3 linked regions of the Homo sapiens genome follow. The protein of the gene in region 1 interacts with the protein of each later gene in a biochemical or structural test. Each region holds a gene or a part of one and is shown in the gene's direction. Other genes may lie near its edges.

Evidence for each region. Proteins that work in one complex are often made in the same cells at the same time.
Region 2: the proteins of DOK4 (region 1) and OPRM1 form a complex in vitro, tested with the Homo sapiens proteins (one study listed by BioGRID).
Region 3: the proteins of DOK4 (region 1) and ELK4 form a complex in vitro, tested with the Homo sapiens proteins (one study listed by BioGRID).

The regions. Positions count from the first base shown.
Region 1 is NC_000016.10:57,475,772-57,484,068, reverse strand, and holds part of DOK4 (docking protein 4), read left to right. Parts: intron 1-3,679; exon of another isoform or gene 3,680-3,774; intron 3,775-4,311; exon of another isoform or gene 4,312-4,380; 5' UTR 4,381-4,561; coding exon 4,562-4,627; intron 4,628-8,111; coding exon 8,112-8,219; intron 8,220-8,297. UniProt on the Homo sapiens protein: DOK proteins are enzymatically inert adaptor or scaffolding proteins. They provide a docking platform for the assembly of multimolecular signaling complexes.
Region 2 is NC_000006.12:154,125,592-154,132,856, forward strand, and holds the end of OPRM1 (mu-type opioid receptor), read left to right. Parts: 3' UTR 1-6,765; downstream 6,766-7,265. UniProt on the Homo sapiens protein: Receptor for endogenous opioids such as beta-endorphin and endomorphin. Receptor for natural and synthetic opioids including morphine, heroin, DAMGO, fentanyl, etorphine, buprenorphin and methadone.
Region 3 is NC_000001.11:205,615,012-205,622,659, reverse strand, and holds part of ELK4 (ETS domain-containing protein Elk-4), read left to right. Parts: intron 1-1,821; coding exon 1,822-2,694; coding exon of another isoform or gene 2,695-2,832; exon of another isoform or gene 2,833-3,392; intron 3,393-3,586; coding exon 3,587-3,703; intron 3,704-6,015; coding exon 6,016-6,114; 3' UTR 6,115-7,648. UniProt on the Homo sapiens protein: Involved in both transcriptional activation and repression. Interaction with SIRT7 leads to recruitment and stabilization of SIRT7 at promoters, followed by deacetylation of histone H3 at 'Lys-18' (H3K18Ac) and subsequent transcription repression.

The DNA.
Region 1 (8,297 bases):
GGAGTCTCCCTACTCCCCGCCACCCCAGGACACCAGCCCTTCCTGGGGAGAGGAGCATTTTGGAGCTGGCTCTCCCTGCGCGGAAACCTGTGGTGGCCTGGCACCAGGCAGGTACTGTCCCTGGGTAAGCAGCAGTATTGGTACCAGGCTGGGAGGTGGGATGCGGGGGGCCCTTGCTCCCCTCCTCCCTCACTGGAACCCTGAGAGCGACTGCTGGACACCGTGCTTAGCTGGGAGCTCGGAGCTCACAGTGCTGGGGAAGGACCCAAGACCTCAGGTCCTCTCAAAGTAGCAAGCATTCTTCCTGCTGCAGGCCTGTTGGGGACAAGGGCCTGAGGGACAAACAGGGCAGGGGCTACTTCAACCCAATTCCTGGCCTGCCTAGCCTCAGCTGCCCTCCAATTTTTGTATTTTTTTAATTGATTTTTTTGAAATTTTTTAGAAACAGTCTCACTCTATCACCCAGGCTGGAGTGCAGTGGCTTGATCATAGCTCACTGCTACCTGGAATTCCTGAGCTCAAGTGATCCTCCCACCTCGGCCTCCCCAGTAGCTGTGACTACAGGCACGTGCCACATGCCCAGCTTATTTTTTCATTTTTTGTAGAGACGGGGTCTCTCTATGTTGCCGGATCTGGTCTTGAACTCCTGGCCCCAAGTGATCCTCCCACTTTGGCCTCCCAAAGTGTTGGGATTACAGGTGTGAGCCACTGTGCCTGGTCTGCTCTCCACTTCTTGCTGTCCTATTGGGCCTTCACAGGCTCAGCTTGGGGGCCGCCTCGCTTGCTTAACACAGTGCATTCCTTCTGGAGGATGGTGGGTTGGTTCTGGGCCCCCCCCTCACCACTTGACCCCACTGCCTGTCAAATTTGTGGGTCCACCTATTGGCCCTGACCTTTCCCTCCCCTTCCGAACCCCTCTTTGCCCACCATTTTGGGTCCTAGGTTAGGTCTTGCTCTTGCAAACATCATTAGGGACTAAGTGTGGCCAGGGGTCCCTGTGACTCAGGGCCGGAGTGAGCTGGCAGGACTTTGGCACCCAGCCTTCCCCGTGAAGGTCACTCTTCCCGCTGGGGACCTGGGGTATGGGACGGGGTGGGGCCTATGGACAGACGCAGCAGGAGCACTCCTGCGAGCTTGGGGCCACAGTCCCTGGTGGGGCAACACTGGGAAGGAGCAGGCTGGCTTCTGGTGGTTTCACCGCCCTGTCTGGGCAGCAACTCTTGAAGAAAACTATATATATATACATACACACAGCCCTTGGAGTTTTCAAGGCAGAAGCTCTGGCCAGGCGCAGTTGCTCACACCTGTAATCTCAGCACTCAGGGAGGCCGAGCCTTGTGGATCACTTGACCCCAGGAGTTCAAGACCAGCCTGGGCAACATGGTGAAAACCCATCTCTAGGGGCCGGGCGCAGTGGCTCACGCCTGTAATCCCAGAACGTTGGAAGGCCGAGGCGGGTGGATCACAAGGTCAGGAGATCGAGACCATCCTGGCTAACACGGTGAAACCCCGTCTTTACTAAAAATATGAAACAATTAGCCGGGTATGGTGGTGGGCTCCTGTAGTCCCAGCTACTCGGGAGGCTGAGGAAGGAGAATGGCGTGAACCCGGGAGGCGGAGCTTGCAATGAGCCGAGATTGGGCCACTGCACTCCAGCCTGGGCAATAGAGTGAGACTCCGTCTCAAAAAAAAAAAAAAAAAAAAACAAAAGCCCCATCTCTACAAACAAGTTTTTAAAAATTAGCTGGGCATGGTGGTATGTACCTGCGGTCCCAGCTATTCAGGAGGCTGAGGTGGGTGGATCACTTGAGCCTGGGTGGTTGAGGCTGCCGTAAGCCGTGATGGCACCCCTGCACTCCAGCCTGGGTGACAGAGCAGGACACTGTCTCAAAAGAAGAAAAAGAAGGCCGGGCGCAGTGGCTCACGCCTGTAATCCCAGCACTTTGGGAGGCCGAGGCGGGCGGATCATGAGGTCAGGAGATCGAGACCATCCTGGCTAACACGGTGAAACCCCGTCTCTACTAAAAATACCGAAAATTAGCCGAGCATGGTGGTGGGAGCCTGTAGTTCCAGCTACTCGGGAAGCCGAGGCAGGAGAATGGCGTGAACCCAGGAGGCAGAGGTTGCAGTGAGCCGAGATCGCGCCGCTGCACTCCAGCCTGGGCGACAGAGGGAGACTCCGTCTCAAAAAAGAAAAAGAAAAAGAAAAAGGGTAGAAGCTCTGTGTCCCAAGTGGGCAAGCAGGTGCCTCATGAATTCATTTCCTCATTTAAAGTAGGTAGATTTATTCTCATTTTTTTCCAATGGGGAAATTAAGGCACAGGGTCTTAAGCGGCTTGCCCAGGACCACACAGCCAGCTGGATTCACACTCCGGGCTGTGCTATGTCTGAGCTATGTTGGATGAACCTGGGGGTCCAGTGGCTTCCTGTAGGCGTGTTCTGACTGGGGGCTTCCACACTGTAGACCCACAGCCAGTGGTCAGCCTGCTAATCATCTTGGAGAGGAACTCCTGAGCTGGTCCTTGCTCTGAGGAGAAGGCAGCCCCAGAGGCAGGCGGTGAAGACAGAGCTGAGAAAATTGACCCATCTCTGGCTGCCAGAGCCCAGGTGTAGCAGAGCTGTTGGGGATCAGTTGCCAGTGAGGGGACCCCAGACCAGACCTTATAGGAGGAATGTAGACTGCCTAACTGTGGGAGGTTCTTGGACCCCAGGGAGCTGGGATAGAGGCAGTGAATGGGCAGGAGTGGAATTGAGGGGCTATCAGGGTGCAAGTGGGATAGGGGCGCATTACCGTCTCTGCCCCTCCCTTGTTTGCGTGTGCCCACTGGGGTAGTCCCATCTGTGCGTGTGCCCACTGGGGTAGTCCCATCTGTTCCTTGTTAGGCACTCAACAGACAGGCCTCCAGGACATTAATTAATGCCAAGCTGCTGGCACAACCAGCAGCATGCCTGTCCCAGGGCCCCGTTCTGGCAGCACAGATACCCAGCTGACCCCAGAAATGCTGCTCCGTTCCCACCCGCTGATCCTGAAGACACAGGGGCCACATTGCTGGCATAACCCTGCCCCCGAGGATGGATGGCAGGGAAGGCTTAGGTGGTGGCAGGCAGCCAGAGACGGCAGCAGGATGTTCCCCCCACAGACTGGTCTCCATCACCACCCTGGACCTTCTCCTTCATCCCTGGCTCTGCCCCAGGCCTGCTGTGTGACCTTAGTCATGTAGCTTACCCTCTCTGGGCAACTTTTCTTTCTCCATCTATAAAATGAAGGGGTTAGACTGGGTCAACACTGAGCCTCCCCCTGAGTCTGAGTCTTTGTTGTCTGTAGATCTGCCTGATTTGGGGTGGCTCTGCTGGTACTCCCACTTCCTGCTCCATATCTACCTCCCCTTGGTATCCCACATTGTCTCCTGCATGTCTTGTTGCCCCAGGGCCCTGACTGGTACTCCTATAATTAACTCCTGCCCATGCTCAGGACATGGAGGGCCTGCTTGGCTTGGCCAGACCCAGTGGCCTGTTGGGGCCCGGGCCCCACCCTCACGGACTGGCCAGCGTTCCCAACCCCAGGGCCAGGGCAAGGCGTCTGCTCCCACAGTGGCTACCTCCAGCCGGCCCAGCACATTCCTCAGGCTTATCTGGAGGCCCGCCCCACTGGACTCTGCCCTCCCACCCAGGAAGCAGCACCCAGAGCTGCGTGCGGAAGAGTTGCAGGGCCTGGGAACAGGCCCTGCGTGAGCTCGAGGTAGTGATTCTTAGCCTGGGGCTGGAGAGAAACAGGTAGAGGACCGGGTGGGGCAGGAGGGTAGAGGGGTTTGTGGGGGCTGCTGAGCTGACCAGGCAAATTGTCTTTAACATTGCAGAGCATGGGGTTCACTCAGACACGCAGGGGTCATCTCCTGCGACCCTCCTCCTCCATCTCTGGGAAGCGCTTCCCTGCTACCCCTGGGAGCTCTTGTACCCAGGAAGGGGCTTTTGCTCTTGGCAAGTTGACCTAAATTTGCACCAGAGTTATCACAGTTGATGGGGCCACGATCCCAAAGTGCTGAGGGACAGCAGCTCCCTGCCACTTCCCTTCCTGGGTCCCCACCTCCACAGTAGGAGCCAGAGCCAGTCCTCCCAGGAAGGGGTTAACTGCCAGCCCCAGCCGTGAGGGAGGGGACTGGGCTGGACCATTTTCCTCACTGCCGCCTCCACCTCGGTTTTCCTGAATGGTTCTGTCGTCCTGGGGTGGGGAGGGAAGGGAAGGAAGAAGGGCGGGAGGAAGGAGGGAGGGAAGAGGGAGAGAGGAGGAGTGTGGGAAGAGGAAGGAAAAAAGAGAGCGAGACAGCGAGAGGAAGAGAAAGATGTCACTGTCTCTAATCTCCCTGTCATTTTTATTTCCAGCAGGCGCGGGGCGAAGGAGCTGCTAGAACAATGCTGAGGCGGGTGAGGTGAGGAGCAGCCCCTCGCGGCAGCCCCGACAGAGTGTCTGGAACAGGTGATTGGAGGAGCCGGAGACCCAGGCACCTGGGCATCCTTCCCCTCGCCTCTGCCAGGCCCCGCGCCCCTAAAAGGTGGGAAAACCATGGCGACCAATTTCAGTGACATCGTCAAGCAAGGCTACGTGAAGATGAAGAGCAGGAAGCTCGGGGTGAGTGACCCTGAGCTGCGGAGGGGCCCTGCCAAGGGATGGGGGCCCGAGGACTCGGTCCCAGGCTTGGAGGCATGGCGCGTGGGGCACGCGGCTGCCCTCCGGCTGCCGGGCATCGTGCATCTGTGGTCTCGGGGCTCCTCGCCAGCGTGCTGCCTGGCATGTGCCTGGGCTGGGTTCTGCCTGCTGCAGCCCCCGCCCCAGAGGGCTGGCTGGCATCCCAACAGCTGGGCCAGTGGTGGTGGTAGTGGCAGCAATGGTGGCCACCGATGGGCAGGCGGCTCCCCTGCTATTGTTGAAGTTGTCACCACAGCAGCAGCAGGGGCGGCTGGCAAGGCCGGGCTGTGTCTGAGCTGAGAAGCAGCGTCTCACTTCCCCTGGCCTCCTCTCCCTTCCGTTTGCCCCCCACCCCCGGCCTCCCCTCACCTCTCCTGGCCTCTTTTCTTTTAGGTCATCCTCTCCCCTTGCTTCTGACTGCTTTCCGTGTGCAGATATTTAGTAAATTTTTGGTTGTCGAGTTTAATGTTAAAGAAGTGTTTGAAAAGGGGAGTGGTTGGCTGGGCGAGACGGGGTGGTGTGAGGCACTGAAGCTGATATTTATGTGGTTTCCAAATGAGAACTTTGGGCAGAATGGTCCAGTGCTCTGGGACAGGCTGCTTCCCTCCAAGTTGTTGGTGGGTGACTCTGTGCTTGCTTGGTGCTTGGCCCTGAACTGGGGGCTTGGAGGGGCTACAGAGAAGAGGTCTTACTGGGCATGCATCCTGTCCTACCCTCTGTAGACCCCCAACTGGTGAAGACCCCCTAGAAGACAGGAGCAGAGGGGATCAACTTCATGATCTCGGCGAGGCTGTCTGAGAGCTGCCTCTATTCCTCTGCCAGGCCCCCCTGCCAAAGACAGGTCTGGCAGTTGCCCCTTCCCCTGTAGGAAGGACAGCCCTGGTGACTGAGGTCACCCAAGTCTTGTGTTTGACCCAGGACTCCTGTCCCCTTCTCCCTTCTCTCTCCCATTGCCTTGAAGGGGGCGGGTCGGCTCAGGCTGCTCAAGGATCCCTGGCTCAGCCTGAGTGGGGTTGGGGGGCATGCGGAGTGGGAGAGGGATCTGCCACCCAGCTTCCCTACCTGGGTACCAGACAGAGCAGGGCTGGTCTTGGAGAAGGTGGTTCTGGCCCCACTTCCCCTCCTGTGCCTCCCTGCCCTGGGGCTCAACCTAGTTGAGACTGGGCCCTGGCAGCCATCGGCTACTTTGCTCTTCCTCTGAAAGGGGGATCAGCCCACTGACTTGGAGCACAGAACAAAGAGAGAAGCTGAGGCTGAGGTAGGGAGGCCAAGGAAGCAGAGGCTTCGCTTCTAACATCACTTCTCATTCCTATGGCCCCAGACTTAGCAGGTCCCCAGGGGCCAGCTGGGCTGAGGCCTTGCCCAGGGCAGAGTGTGCCAGGAAGGCACCAGCCACAAGGGCAGCCACTTGGGCTCAGTATCAAACCTGTTCCAGAGGGAGACTGAGTGGCTGACAGGTGGGCACAGCCTGGATGGGGAGGTGGGGCATAGCCAGGCCCTATCCATGCAGGGAATTCTCTTCCCTCTGAAGCCAGGAGCCTCACTTCCCCTGGTGTGAGAGGCTGTGGTCCCTCCCCAGCAGCCATTCTCATCTCAGCCCACAGAGGTGAGGGGGGAGGGGCTGAAAGAGATCAGGAGCCGGCTCTCCTACCTGCCAGGGCCTTTCTCCCGCGGCAGAGCTGTGGCAGAGTGTTTCTGAAGCACTGATCAAAGCCCTGTGCGAAGTGGGAAGGAGGGCTCTTGAGCGCGTGGCTCCCTGGGGCTGTGAATGTGTATCCTGTAACCAGGCAACCGGCATGCTCAGGCCCCCAGGCCTTCTGCCCCTGATGCTGCGGGCTGCATGGAGCCCACCCTGGCAGGGTGTATCTGGGTCGGCAGCATCCATCCATTCATCCATCCATTCATTCACGGTTCCTTCATATGGTCATTCACTTGTTTAGCATGGCTGTTAATGAGGCTACCAGGATATGAGTGAGGATTCTGTGGATAAAATTCAGTGTCTGTCTTAAGGGAGCGCTGCAGCTGAGAGCTGAGGGCTGCTGTGGTTTAGGTGGGTAGGACAGGGGCCAAGCCAGGGTCAGGGGTGCAGGAGCAGACATGCCTCCTAGGGTCCCAGATAGGAGCCAGAAATGGCCTGGCTCTGAGTGGTATCTTGAAATGGGGGCTGCCTAGGGCCACTGCACCCTGGGACCCTGCCTGCCAAGGACCTAGTGTACGCATGGCACAGTAGGGCCGAGGAGGGGTGGGGCCTAGAGGCCCCCTGGCCTCCTCTGCTGTGCTCTCGGCCACCACTCAGTCTCCCTACTGTTTCCAGTAAGAGGAACACCAGAGATGCCTGGGGAACAGGCTCTGTCGGGCTTTTGGAATGCCCGCTGGAAGGAGTAGGTAAACCCCAGCCACAGACTTTGGGCAGAAAAAAGTCTAGGCAGGAGGGAGGGGTCATGCAAGGGCAGCTCTGGCTGGTGGCTGGGGCCAACTCCCTCTCCACCACCCATGAATGATAGGCCAGTCTGTCCCTTCAATCCTAGAGTGGTCACTCCCCTCTGCTCCCCACCCCCTTGGGGGAGTCCCTGAAGCTACAGAGAATGTAGGTAGTTTAAGGTACAGGGGCATCAGCAGTGGCCAGGGCCAGGAGGGAAGGCACCATGCTGTGGGAGGAGCCTCAGATTCCTAGCTCCACCCCTTTACCTCAAACAGCTTTGGGTTCCCAGCTGGAGCAGGGCCCCTTACATTTCAGGGTTGGTAAGAGAATGAAAAGAGAGGGTGAGTGAAAGCCCCAGGAGACAAGAGTGGGGGTTACCTTTGTAAAGACCCTCACCTGACTCAGAGAACTAGGGGCACGGGGATGTACAGGTGGGCAGGGGGAAGGGTCTAATCCCTATCCCCAGGAGACCCCTCTGTTGTGGCTGGCACTGCCTGAGCCCTGGCCAGATCCTGCAGTGGGCTGTGAGGGTCTGCCCTGGATCTAGACAGCCTGCTGCAAATACCAGCATCACCATTCCTTAGTGTTTTGATGCCTCCCTTTCCCCATCTATAAAATGGGGATGATAACAGAACTGATCTCAGGAGTGGCCCTGAGACTGTGCACAGTGCTAATAACAGGTGTGAGCAGGAAGCACTCAGGAACGTTGGCTACTCACACTAAACTCAGCGGTGCACACAGTACATGGCAGGTCAGGAGAGCACCCTTTGTGGAACAGCGTTTTGGAGCCAGCCAAGAAGTCAATGACTTTTCAATTTGGGGAGGAGGCTTCTCTCCCAGGGAGGTGACACTGCTGGTGACTCCCACCCCCGGTGTCCCCAGGCTGGGGCTCCAGGGAAGGCTGTGCGGCACCGCCCCCTGTGGCAGGCAGGGGTGGCTGCAGGGCCATGCTGGTGGGGTGGGAGTGGTCCAGGGAGGCCTGAGCCCTGTCATCTCGCTCCACAGATCTACCGGAGGTGCTGGCTGGTGTTCCGGAAATCCTCCAGCAAGGGGCCCCAGCGGCTGGAGAAGTATCCAGATGAGAAGTCGGTGTGCCTCCGGGGCTGCCCCAAGGTTAGGAGGCCTGGGCCCTAGCTCCCCCAAGTGGCAGGGCTGTGGGGGATGGAGAGAGAGAGAGGGAGAGAGGGGAGA
Region 2 (7,265 bases), on another chromosome or scaffold:
AGCAAAAAAAACCTTCCAGAGAAAGGTGGTTTCCAATATTACCTACAACTTCCTTTGCAATTTGATTTTTGAAAGGACCTAAAAGTTGAAAACAGGCTATCACATCCCATTTGCTTTAAAGTCTCTTAAACTTACGCTCTTTCGCTTCAAATGCATAAATGTTTTATTTAAGTTTGCATTGCCCACTAAGGCTAGACATTTTTTTTTTTTTTTTTTTTTTTTTTTTTTTGAGACAGAGTCTCGCTCTGTCGCCCAGGCTGGAGTACAGTGGCGGGATCTCGGCTCACTGCAAGCTCCGCCTCCCGGGTTCACGCCATTCTCCTGCCTCAGCCTCCCAAGTAGCTGGGACTACAGGCGCCCGCCACTACGCCCGGCTAATTTTTTGTATTTTTAGTAGAGACGGGGTTTCACCGTTTTAGCCGGGATGATCTCGATCTCCTGACCTCGTGATCCGCCCGCCTCGGCCTCCCAAAGTGCTGGGATTACAGGCGTGAGCCACCGCGCCCGGCCCGGCTAGACATTTTTTGATAAATTCACAGGGTTACAAAATACCAAACGGAAATGAGATAAGTGGTATAAACCACAGAAGATATAGGAGAAGAGAAAAAAAAAAGAGGAAATAAAGAAGACAACTCTTTTCCTAAGAGTCTGGGTAAAATTGAACATAGCCATATTCACTGAACAACATGAGTGAGCTTCATTAATTTAAGCACAGCAAAACTGCTTTAATTAACAAGACCAGAGAGAAGGGAGAGGAGACTACATTTGTGTGACCTAATGGTTGTGATTTCACTGTCCAAGAGGACAAAGACAAAGAAATTCTGGGAAGGAGAACAACAATTATATTCCCCCATTTCAAGAAGGGCAGAAGTGTCCCAACACTACCCAATATTTGCAAAATTCAAATGTCTCATAGGCTCTTCTTCCCTGGTTCCCTCAGGAGCTGGGTTTCTGGGTTGCAGAAGTGCTTTTCATATTCTGTATCTGGTTGTGGTGGCAATGTCACCACCCTACACTGCTGTGACACCGAAACAACCAAGCCTAGAATCAGCTGGTGCCTCTTTTCATCTGCAGGGTAGATTTGGCTTCCATGGTTGTTCACTGCTCTGTGTTAGGAAGGCTCAGTGACAGGTGTACAGCCTTCAGTAATGCCTCAAAGGTTCTCCAAGCAGAGGTAAACATGTGGGTCCTGCTGGTGACATATTAGACTTCTTACTTTCCCCAAATAAAAAAGTGCCTGCTGGGCGCGGTGGCTCACGCCTGTAATTCCAGCACTTTGGGAGGCCGAGGCGGGCGGAACACAAGGTCAGGAGATCAAGACCATCCTGGCCAATATGGTAAAACCCCATCTCTACTAAAAATACAAAATTAGGAAGGCGTGGTGGTGCACGCCTGTAATCCCAGCTAGTCGGGAGGCTGAGGCAGGAGAATTGCTTGAACTGGGGAGGCGGAAGTTGCAGTGAGCCAAGATCGCAGCATTGCACTCCAGCCTGGGCAACAGAATGAGATTGTCTCAAAAAAAAAAAAAAGTGCCACATGCCATGCTATGTGCCCAAAGTTTCCTTCACACAACACAGCCTTGAGATGCAGTATTAAATTCTACACTTTTCCTACCATAGTGATACATGTGGCTTTTCTTTGCTGTGTTCTGAGATGTCATGCTTTGAAATCAGTGGCCATTATCATCTAAGGATTCCGCCAGAGACTTCCAAAAGAAGAGGTCTCATTTATAAAGTGAATTTGAATAAAATGACCAGTTAGGTGTTTTCAGAAACACCTATGCCCTACTTGCCTACTCTTCAAGGGTTTAGGGGCTTAGGGGGAGGTTTTGTTTGGGTTTTTTGTTGCTGTTGCTTGTTTATTTGTTTGTTGTGTTTAAGACGTTTTACTTGTCCCTGAAATGTTTGTCATCACACAGATACACGCTCAGGATAAGAACTACCAGACTAGATTAGGAGGTCCACACCACCAATTGAGATGTACCTGTGCTCATGACTTGACATTGTGGTGGGCCGGCTACAACCCTCCCCACCCCTCGCTTTCACTAAATAACAACTCTCTTCTCTCCATCATTTTGACTTAGAGCCAGTCAGAATTCAATCTCCAATATCCTGACTAGCACAAGAAATCCATAGGTTGATTCTTGTTCTCCTGCATCTCTGCAGGTGGCAAACCTGATTCCTAATGCCTGTTCCTGCCTCTGCAGGGGTTCATTCAGAAAACAGGAAAATAACAAAGGCTTCCTGTAATTCTCTTTGGCTGTAATACAATTTGTTCCCGTCTGCCCCCAGGCTCACCCAGTGCTCTGTCTCAGTGGTAAGCTGTAACTGATCACTGCTGTATTAACTCAAAACTCATTTGCTTTATGGAAATTCATGGCCCTTATTTCTCAAGGGACCAGAGAAAACCAATAGGCCTACTCCCCAGCTGAGTACTTTCCATGCAAGCTACCGCATCTGTATAAATTAGGTTCAAATAACAGAGTATTTCCAGGATTTATAAATTCAGTATTACAAATAGTAATCTGGCAAGTGTTCTCAGGATCCCCTTGCTACCTGTAATTCAATCATATAACTTCTGAATGGGCTGGGGGAAAATAACAATAAGAAAAACTGGTGTTTACCTGAAGATCTGCCCAGTGATTTGTGTGTTTTCTTAATAAACTTTACCCACTTATTAAAAGAATAAAATGAAGGTGGAGTTAATTCTGACTACGGGATTCCTTTTTCACTTTTATAATGAACTCCTTCCTTCTAACTAAATCTTATCATAAGCAAATCTATGCACCAAATTATTTAGTACAATTCCTAATAACAGCTGAAGGACCATTTATTTGAAGCAATGTTCACCATAGCAAAATTCCAGTGAAGTCTAAGAACTGGGACAGTCCGTTGAGGATCCTTGTGCCAGGATGTATGTTGCCCCATGAATGTGCACATGCATATTAAAATATGGGCACCTCTTTTAATTCTTTTTTTTCTCATAATAAGTTTGAAACTCACAGTAGGAAATTGAGAGATCAATTTGGTTACTGTTTTATCATTGATCCTGAAGACAGTTGAAGCAATCATACTGGTTGTTCTCGAACTAGCTGGTTTCCCAGAGACAGCTGGAGACTGAGCACATAAAGACATCATTGAGGAAAAAGGCTACCTTGTACCTCATGGAGAGCTGAAGGTCTGATAAATGGGAACTGCCAGGTAATAGCTATGCTATTTCTGACATAAATTTAAAAACTAGTATTGTTTCTTCTAGCTCTGTTTTTGCATAGTGCACAGAGATCTTTGTAAAAAACAGGAAATTAATGTTAAATTGGATCTATAAACATAAGTCAATTTGGCTCTATTATGTCAAAAGAGAATAGGAGTTTTAACTTATATCTGTGTTTTATTAATATTTTGAAGTATAGGAACCTCATGGTGTAGCAGGATGAGCCACAGACAAAACCTCTCAGACACCGAGTTGTAGAAGGAAGGGCTTTATTCAGCTGGGAGCATCGACCAGCTACTGTCTCAAAATCCAAGCTCCCTGAGTACACAATTTCTGTCCCTTTTAAGGGCTCACAACACTAGATTTCACATGAAAGGGTCGTGATTGATTTGAGCAAGCAAGGGGTATGTGACAGGGGCTGCATGCACCGGTGGTCTGGGAGGAACAGAACAGGACAGGGAGTTCTTCTATACAATAGAGAACAGAACAATGTTCTTCTATACAATGTAAGGAATCTATGAATAACATCGGCTTCTAAATCATAAGTTGATTTTTAACTACTGGGTTTAGGCCAGGCGGGCCCAGGCCTGGTTTCGGGCCTGGCGCTGAGCTGCCTGTATTTGGTTTTACTTCCTTGTTGTTTTTACTGAATATGAAACAATATAAAACAATGTGAGAGGGTCTTTCTCTCCTCTCAATGTCAACATCATATATGATTGGAGACTTCCACATAATTGAGTTTTAGTGCCCACTGTTACAGAAAATCATAATGGAAAAACTAAAATGTCAATAATAATTTCAGATGTGTATTTTAGTTCTCATAAGAACATCTACATTCATTTGAAAAATAGTTCTATATCTATTCTTGAAACATATTTCTTTAGTTCAAGGTCTGATGAGCTCCCAGACTGTTGGGGATTGCTCTACAGCTGCTCAAGCTTTTGAAGACTCCTGTGATTTTTTTAAATGGCTGGTTTGGTTGAAGTTTCTCTTATCAGTCAGGCACTTTGCATTTTAAGCGTACTTTACCACCGACACCCTCCCCCCCCAGCACACACACACACACACACACACACACACACACAACATAGTGAAATGGACCCGTGGGAATTATATGATAGTTGTAATCAAAATAAAATGCAATCAATACTAAAATACAATTTACCAAAGGCTTACCTCCTTATTTGAAACTCCAGCATCAATAATTTACTTGCACTCTTGTTATTTACATTTGTACTCTGGAAGTAAACTTAAAATGAAAATTAGAATTTGCTTTCAATTATACTATCTCTATCTAAATCTTAATTTGAAATTTAAATTATTTTGTCTCTACCCAAACCATCGATTTCATGGAAATGTTTAAATTTTCTTTTTTTTTTTTTTTTTTGATGGAGTCTCACTCTGTCGCCCAGGCTGGAGTGCAGTGGCTCAATCTTGGCTCACTGCAACCTCTGCCTCCCGGGTTCACACCATTCTCCTGCTTCAGCCTCCTGAGTAGCTGGGACTACAGGTGCCCGCCACAACACCTGGCTAATTTTTTGTATTTTTAGTAGAGATGGGGTTTCACCACGTTAGCCAGGATGGTTTCGATCTCCTGACCTCGTGATCTGCCTGCCTCGGCCTCCCAAAGTGTTGGGATTACAGGTGTGAGCCACTGCGCCTGGCCAGAAATGTTTAAAATTTCATAAATCTTGAATCCATAAAATTCAATGCTACCATTTATAATTTAATACTCCTACCATAAAAATTTCTGTGTTAGGCATAGCTATATGAATATTTGCCTATAAATCCCCATCAATTTAATAGGAATTAAGTTAGAAATACTAGTATATATATTCCCTTTATATACTAATTGTATATCCATATAAAAGCATTAGTACCATTATATGAAAGTATATATGCCATTCCATAAAAATATATCTACCAATATAAATAGAATATATAAAGGGAATATATATATACCAATATAAATGGGAATTTATATTGGCACATACATTTCCATTATTTTAATGGGAATTAAAGAAAAAATGCCTGTTTTCACTAAGTCATCCTTCCCCTGGCAATACATTTCCTGAACTTTTACATACTTAAATAGCCAGTTATGAAAATGTAAAACAATGAGTGATCTTGTTGTTTTCATTTTATTATGTTATATGAAAAAAAGAAACCTTGTAAGTGCAGATTTATTTTAAAAAATTGAAAAACTACTCTGTCAAACATAGCAAATAGGAAAGTTAAAAAAAAGTAAGTCTAAAGATTAGGTGCTCTGTCACTTGTCATTACATTTTTTTATAACATTAATGACACATTTTTTGCTATCCAAATATAATTTCCACTAGAAAAGAAAAGATGTCCTCCATGTTTTAAATTGCATTTGAAATTCAGGTAACTAATAACCCTTGGTTTTAAAAGATACATATAATGTTTCCGTAGGAAAAAAATCAAAATATTGTAAAGAATCTGAGTAAATGAGAGCCTCTCATGGTTGATTAAGTTCAGACATTTTAAACAGACTCCTGCCCACAAACTATTTTTCCTCTCCAGGAATAAGAATGGCAACTGAATTGTTCCTTCTTTATTCTATAGCTTTAAGTCAAACCTAACATAAGCAATCAACCCTTCCACCCATTGTCCTCTTTCTAGCTGCTTATATTCCTGAGTCTGAAAGAAGGGCAGAATTAATTCGTTTCCTTGACAGTGTTGGGGGTGAAATAAAAGATAGACCCCTGCTGCTCTGCACGTAGATTCAGTTTGTATGCCAGGGTGACATTTTAATTTACAGTAGTCCAGACACCTAAACAGGACATAGAAATGTCAACTGGTCATATTAAAATAAAAAAGTATAGAATAGTTTCTGTTTTACGGATTTTGTATCCAAGTAAATGAAAACACAATCACCTTTCAAAACATGGTATGAAATCCACAGTTGTAACAGTGAGCACAACATGCTTTCTGTGTGTGTTTTTAAGCTCTTTCCCCACATCTGCTTTTCAAAAATATTTGCCTGGAAACCTGTATTTCGCCTATAGAGACAAATACATATATTGTTTGTTGTGATAATGCACAAAAAGGAATGTTAAAAAAAAACACACAACATTGTTTTCCTTTTGATGGTCTGGGAGTTTTTCTATAAGTTTTTGGTTTTTTTTTTTTTTTCTCTTCATTAGTGTGTTAGTTCCATCATCATGTCTGTTTACTATTGAAAAATAAATATCTTCATTTAAAGTAGAGACAAAGCTACTATTTCACATTTCCAGGTAGGACAGGATGATCAGATGCAGCTTTCAAAAGAACTACCTGCTAAATCATAATGGTCTCATGTGCAGATCAAAATGTCAACTAGTATATCAAACAGTGAGCAATTCACTAAATTATTTTTACATTACTCCTATTTGACTGTTTCAGATAGTTGTATATAAAAAATATAAATTTTTGCATTGTATTGTTCTTGATGTACCAGCATACATAAACATATTAGGCTGTATTGTAAGTTTCCTGCATGTAATATGTAATGTGTAATTATATGTGATAAATAAAACCTAAAACTGATACAAATCTAGATTTTCCCTTGTCTTTCTCATTCTGACATTACTGACCTGTTTTAAAAGAATATTCCCCAAGTAAATGTTGCGACGTAGGTAAATAGCCTAAGAATTAGAGTAACAGACAACTTTGATACTAAATAAATACTTCAAAATAAAGAAGTGAACTTTCTCTCTTCATGAATTATTTCTATTTTTAGAACCAAAATGTCTCTAAACCTTGACAACCATAACTTCCTAAGCTAGAATTCTAACCAAACCATACAGAGAAGAAAAATATCCACTGTAAAGTCTATAGTTGAAAATATAGGCAGCTAAATCCACTGATAGTCTACTTTTTTTAAAAATGTGTTCTTGATGTTTTGAGCAGGAAAATTATTTGCAAGAAACAAAGAGTTTGATAAGGTGAAATTCAGAGCATGCTCTGGGTTGTTAGGTACAATTTTTTGAAGTGGAAACGTCTCAACATGAAAACACTTTATGGTAAGAAAAAAACGGCTGGGCGTGGTGGCT
Region 3 (7,648 bases), on another chromosome or scaffold:
GTAATGCCAGCACTTTGGGAGGCTGCAGCAGGAGGATCACTTGAGCCCAGAAATTTGAGACCAGACTGGGCAACACAGGGAGACCCCGTCTCTACAAAAAACAGTGTGGCGCGGTGGTGTACACCTGTAGTCCCAGTGCCCAGGAGGCTGAGGCAGGAGGATCACTTAAGCTCAAGTGGTTGAGGCTGCAGTGAGCCATGATCACACACCACTGCACTCCATGAGAACCCTGTCTTGTTGGGGAGAAAAGTCATATATGTACATATACACACACACATATATCTACATATATACGTTTTATATCTTAATTTTTAGTTTTAGTTTAACCCAGGGAACACAAATTAAAACCTTATACCTTAAGTAGTAGCTGTTTATACACAGAGTTGGTTTTTTAGTTAAAATTGCTGAGATCTTAATTTCTTTCACTTTTTTTTGTTTGTTTGTTTGAGACGGAGTCTTGCTCTGTTGCCCAGGCTGGAACACAGTGGCGTGATCTCAGCTCACTGCAACTTCTGCCTCCCAGGTTCAAGTGATTCACCTGCCTCAGCCTCCCGAGTAGCTGGGACTACAGACATGCACCACCACACCTGGCTAATTTTTGTATTTTTGGTAGAGATGGGGTTTCACCATCTCTACGGGAGGCTGGTCTTGAACTCCTGACCTCAGGCAGTCCACCTGCCTTGGCCTCCCAGAGTGCTGGGATTACAGGCGTGAGCCACTGTGCAGGGCTCTTTCACCATTAAGTGGTTGATCTTACCAGCTTTCCTGTCTGGAGATAAACTGGAATTTCTGAAGGAAGTAAGAACCTTAACAGATACTATGTTCTAAATTCCTTTTTCACAGCCGGGCGCGGTGGCTCACGCCTGTAATCCCAACACTTTGGGAGGCCGGGGTGGGTGGATCAGTTGAGGTCAGGAGTTCAAGACCAGCCTGGCCAACATGGCAAAACCCCATCTCTACTAAAAATACAAAATTAGCTGGGCATGGTGATGTGTGCCTATAATCCCACCTACTTGGGAGGCTGAGGCAGGAGAATTGCTTGAACCCAGGAGGCAGAGGTTGCAGTGAGCTGAGATCACACCACTGCACTCCAGCCTGGGTGACAGAGTGAGACTCCATCTCAAAAAAATAAGTAAATAAATTCCTTTTTGCTTACTCAGGATGTGTATGGCTTATACCTTTGGAATTGTTTGAGACTGCAGTTCAGGGAGTTCTAATCTGCACAGATATTTGGTTGAGAGTGGTAAGCAATTAAAATCCTTCAGTTTTTATGTAACATATTAGTTCAGTTGTTAATAAGACATTTAAATGTTCTTGCCTTAACTTCTCCATAATAGTAGGGACTGTGTTTGGTATGGCTAGATGAATTTAGGTGATTTTGAAAGTTTTAAGTAAGTGATGTCTACTTCTAAAATGGAGAACCTCATTACCAGCTTTTTCTTTTTTTTTTTTTTTTTTTTTTTTTTAAGACAGACTCTTGCTCTGTCACCAGGCTGGAGTGCAGTGGTGTGATCTTGGCTCACTGCAACCTCCGCCTCCCGGGTTCAAGGGATTCACCTGCCTCGGCCTCCTGAGTAGCTGGGACTACAGGCGCACGCCACCATGCCCTGCAAATTTTTTCTGTTTTAGTGGAGACGGGGTTTCACCATGTTGGCCAGGCTGGTCTCAATCTCCTGACCTCGTGATCCGCCCTCCTCGGCCTTCCAAAGTGCTGGGATTACAGGCATGAGCCACTGTGCCTGGCCGATGCCAGCTTTTTCATGAACTATGGGATATAAGTTTATAAGAAAGGATAAAAATGCTTTTTTTTTTAACCTACAGAATATCATCAAAAAAGTGAATGGTCAGAAGTTTGTGTACAAGTTTGTCTCTTATCCAGAGATTTTGAACATGGATCCAATGACAGTGGGCAGGATTGAGGGTGACTGTGAAAGTTTAAACTTCAGTGAAGTCAGCAGCAGTTCCAAAGATGTGGAGAATGGAGGGAAAGATAAACCACCTCAGCCTGGTGCCAAGACCTCTAGCCGCAATGACTACATACACTCTGGCTTATATTCTTCATTTACTCTCAACTCTTTGAACTCCTCCAATGTAAAGCTTTTCAAATTGATAAAGACTGAGAATCCAGCCGAGAAACTGGCAGAGAAAAAATCTCCTCAGGAGCCCACACCATCTGTCATCAAATTTGTCACGACACCTTCCAAAAAGCCACCGGTTGAACCTGTTGCTGCCACCATTTCAATTGGCCCAAGTATTTCTCCATCTTCAGAAGAAACTATCCAAGCTTTGGAGACATTGGTTTCCCCAAAACTGCCTTCCCTGGAAGCCCCAACCTCTGCCTCTAACGTAATGACTGCTTTTGCCACCACACCACCCATTTCGTCCATACCCCCTTTGCAGGAACCTCCCAGAACACCTTCACCACCACTGAGTTCTCACCCAGACATCGACACAGACATTGATTCAGTGGCTTCTCAGCCAATGGAACTTCCAGAGAATTTGTCACTGGAGCCTAAAGACCAGGATTCAGTCTTGCTAGAAAAGGACAAAGTAAATAATTCATCAAGATCCAAGAAACCCAAAGGGTTAGAACTGGCACCCACCCTTGTGATCACGAGCAGTGATCCAAGCCCACTGGGAATACTGAGCCCATCTCTCCCTACAGCTTCTCTTACACCAGCATTTTTTTCACAGGTAGCTTGCTCGCTCTTTATGGTGTCACCATTGCTTTCATTTATTTGCCCTTTTAAGCAAATCCAGAATTTATACACTCAAGTTTGCTTTCTGTTACTTAGGTTTGTCTTAGAAAGGTTATGTGTGACTGTCATGTGAAAGTTACCCCATTTCTCATCTTAATTAGGATTGCTAAAATAGAAAGTTTGGAGTATTTTCTTAAAAAATTCATTGTTCTACAAGTAAATAAATATTTTGATTTTTCTATTTCCTCCTAAAGAAAGTACACACACTCTCTCGCTCTCTCTCGGTCTTATAAAACTCGTTGGTGTCTTATAAAACAAACAGTGATAATCTCAAGTTAGAAAACAGTAGGTCCTGAGAACCATAAGAAAAATGACTGGTGTGATGTTGAGTAACAAGTTGGTACAGTTACTTTAGCTATTTATTAACTTGCTCATCTCATAGAACATTTTAGTAGATTTTTCACACACCTCATTATTAAAAAAAAACAAACATGCTGGTGTCTTGGTTACCCATTATTCCTCTGTACCTGAATTCAGGTTGGTTTTTCTATTTGGAAAAGACTTTATAAATGTTGGCTTAAAAAGAGGTTGAGCACCAGAATCTCAGAATTTACCACCAAAGAACTCATCCATGTAACCAAAAACCACTTGTACCCCCAAAAACTATTGAAATAAAAATTTAAAAAATTTTAAGTAGTTATTATCACCTTTATCCCTCTTAGTTTGTAAAAATAATTTTTGAGTTTTGTCATGATAATATTTCAGACTTGGAGATATTTGGAGTGGAGGATAGGGCAATATTTAGGTTTGGGTTATTTGTGTGCTGTTTCAAGGATAAAACATCCTGGTAAGTCAGTCAGTGAATATTTTTGCTTTGTGTATTGCAGACACCCATCATACTGACTCCAAGCCCCTTGCTCTCCAGTATCCACTTCTGGAGTACTCTCAGTCCTGTTGCTCCCCTAAGTCCAGCCAGACTGCAAGGTGCTAACACACTTTTCCAGGTAATTTTATAAATATCTGTCTTCTGTAGTTGGAGCATGTTAAATGAAGAAAGAGGCAAAAAGGCAGGGTCCCACTATTCAGTTTAATCATTATAAAACTTCTATTTAATGAATATTCTTTTTTTATTTTTTTGAGATGGAGTCCTCACCATGTCACCCAGGCTGGAGTGCAGTGGCATAATCTCAGCTCACTGCAACCTGCACCTTCCAGGTTCAAGCGATTCTCCTGCCTCAGCCTCCGGAGTAGCTAAGATTACAGGTGTGCAACACCACGTCTGGTTGATTTTTGTGTTTTTAGTGAGACAGGGTTTGACCATGTTGTCCAGACTGGTCTCCAACTCCTGACCTCAGGTGATCCGCCCACCTTGGCCTCCCAAAGTGTTGGGATTACAGGCATGAGCCATTGTGCCCTGCCCAATGAATATTCTTTAGATTTATTTTTGAATTTCCAAATATTAATTTTCTAGCTGGCAAACAGCTTGAATAAATATAGCAAAGTTTCATTTTCATTATTTACTATTACATACATTTGAGTTAGACCAAGAATTGTTCAATACTGTAGGAGATTTAGAGCCTACCCCAAGTTTTTGTCACTAGAAATTCTCTATTTAAAAAAAAAAAATGGGCCAGGCAGTGTGTGTGTCATGCCTGTAATCCCAGCGCTTTGGTAGGCCGAGGCAGGAAGATTGCTTGAGCTCAGGAGTTTGAGACCAGCCTGGACAACCTAAGGAGACCTTGTCTGTACTAGAAATAAAAAAAATTAAGTTAGGCATGGTAGCACGTGCCTGTGGCCCCTAGAGCTACTTGGGAGGCTGAGGTGGGAGGACCGCTTGAGCCCAGTAGATCAAGGCTGCAGTGAGCTATAATGGCACCGCTGCACTCCGGCCTGGGTGACACAGTGAGACCTTGTCTCAAAAAAACAAAATCCACACACACACACTCTCTCTCTCTCTCTTGCTCTCTCTCTCTCTCACACACACACACACACACATATATGGGGGATCTCTGCACATAGGTTCCCTCTTTTAATTAAAGATTAAAAAAAATTTTTTTTTGAGGCGGAGTTTTGCTCTTGTTGTCCAGGCCAGAATGCAATGGCACGATCTCAGCTCACTGCAACCTCTGCCTCCTGGGTTCAAGCGGTTCTCCTGCCTCAGCCTCCCGAGTAGCCAGGATTATAGGCATGTGCCACCATGCTAGGCTAATTTTGTATTTTTAGTAGAGACGAGGTTTCTTCATGTTGATCAGGCTGGTCTCAAACTCCTGACCTCAGGTGATCCGCCCGCCTCAGCCTCCCGAAGTGCTGGGATTACAGGCATGAGCCACTGCACGCGGCCCAAGCATTTTTTTTTTTTTAATAGAGAAAGGTCTTGAAAATGGTATATCAAACAGTCCCATTTCTCCCTCAGTCAGAATTGATAATTTATCAACATTTTATATGTACATTTTTAAAAAAATGAATATTATCTCTTCACCAAGACGTTAGGAAAGTTCTTGCCATTCCTAATGGGTTTAGCCATTATTTTGCCCAAAACACTTAGATGTTATAACTTAAAGACTTTCTTGGAGTCAATTCATTTACTTATTCATGGTTGACTATCTCTGATTTTCTTATATTTTGTAATTTAACTTCTCATTCTTTTAGAAATGAAATGGTAGGGAAAAAGAGGAAAATTAAAAATCTCTCTGCTTTTTATTTTTTGCCAACGTTTAAAATTATTGAATAGAAAAAAAAGTTGAGAATTTTTCATATTTTTTTTCATTGCCACACATGAGCAGATAATTGAGTTATAGAGTCAGCTGAGACCTTAAGCAAAGTCATAGTGCTCCTGTAGCTTCAGCCTGGAATCTCCCTGTAGAGCTGGCCTCAGAATACTTGATGGGGAACCCTTTTCTAGGATGAGTGCTATTTATACCTTTCTGGATCTCTTTTTGAGGGTTTATGATTTGCTCCATAATTGAATTACACTCTGTAGTGCATATTGTCATTTACTTGAACTTTCTAAAACCTTCATTTGAGGTTAATTGTAAACCTGTGTACCTTAGGATATGAAGGAGGGTACAGGTTGTTCTTTGTTTCTACTCCATTGAGGTAAGTTGGAGAATGTTAATATTTAATATGTTAGGACAAAAGATTTTTGTTTCTAGTTTTTGTTATGACATCATATTCTTTCATGATAAACAGCCACTGCCTTTGTCCTGTGAGCCATTACAGAAGGCTGTTGTGTTTTGCCTCAGGTAATAGAGTAGGATAGAAAGTAAAAGTTGGGGTTGAGTAATAGGATGATAATGTGTTTTGTTTTCTTTCTCAGTTTCCTTCTGTACTGAACAGTCATGGGCCATTCACTCTGTCTGGGCTGGATGGACCTTCCACCCCTGGCCCATTTTCCCCAGACCTACAGAAGACATAACCTATGCACTTGTGGAATGAGAGAACCGAGGAACGAAGAAACAGACATTCAACATGATTGCATTTGAAGTGAGCAATTGATAGTTCTACAATGCTGATAATAGACTATTGTGATTTTTGCCATTCCCCATTGAAAACATCTTTTTAGGATTCTCTTTGAATAGGACTCAAGTTGGACTATATGTATAAAAATGCCTTAATTGGAGTCTAAACTCCACCTCCCTCTGTCTTTTCCTTTTCTTTTTCTTTCCTTCCTTCCTTTTCTTTTCTCCTTTAAAAATATTTTGAGCTTTGTGCTGAAGAAGTTTTTGGTGGGCTTTAGTGACTGTGCTTTGCAAAAGCAATTAAGAACAAAGTTACTCCTTCTGGCTATTGGGACCCTTTGGCCAGGAAAAATTATGCTTAGAATCTATTATTTAAAGAAATATTTGTGAAATGAATTGGCATCTTTAGGACTAAGTGTGCTCTGTTGAATGACTTAAAGTGAGCTGTTCCTAAGCAGTGGAAGAAGAAGAATCATTCCTATTCATACAAAGTAAGATTGGAGCAGTCATACTGGGGAGATTGTTTTGTGTGAACTATAACGTGTAAGCAACTCCATGAAAAGGCATCTTGTTTACCTTTATTCAGGGTGGATCTCTTAGCCATATGTATGATCCTGTCTGAACCTGTCAACAGAGCATGGAGCTAGTCTATTTCACTATAGAAAGATTTTTAGACCTGGGGTTTAAGACAGTTTTTGGAACACCTAGTAAGAATATGGGACCTCACATCTAGCACAGAAATGCTCTTTGCCCTCTGGGTGGTATGATTATATGCCCATGGAATACAGCATGGGAAATGATCACTTTTAGGAGGATGAACTTGGATTTTGAATATTTGAAACATCTCTGAGTAAAAGATTCGATCAGATAACTTGAAACAACATGTAGTGGTTTTCTCAATTAGAAGATAACCAAGTGAAGGACCTGTCTTTTTCCTGTTCATTTTACCTCATTTTCTACTATACATTTATCACCTTTCCTTTATGTTTAAGGTTGTTAGAGGTTATGATAGTTTTAAAGATGCAGTTAGGAAGGTAGAATTCAAAGTGAAGCCTCCCCAGTCAGGAGCGAAGATGTGCTTATTTCCTTTTTTTTTTTTTTTTTTTTTTTTTGAGACAGAGTCTTGCTCTATCACCCAGGCTGGAGTGCAGTGGCGCGATCTCAGCTCACTGTAAGCTCCGCCTCCCGGGTTCAAGCAATTCTCCTGCCTCAGCCTCCTGAGTAGCTGGGACTACAGGCATGCGCCACTACGCCTGGCTAATTTTTGTATTTTTAGTAGAGACGGGGTTTCACCATGTTGGCCAGGATGGTCTTGATCTCTTGACCTTGTGATCCGCCCACCTCAGCCTCCCAAAGGCGCAGGCTCAGATGTGCTTATTTCTTTCAACTTTTTTTTTTTAAATGGGGAAGAGCAGAGTTCATTTGGGAATGCTTATACATAGGGATTGGATTGTTCATATTAGTAGTAAAAAATGTAGGCCTTATTCTCTA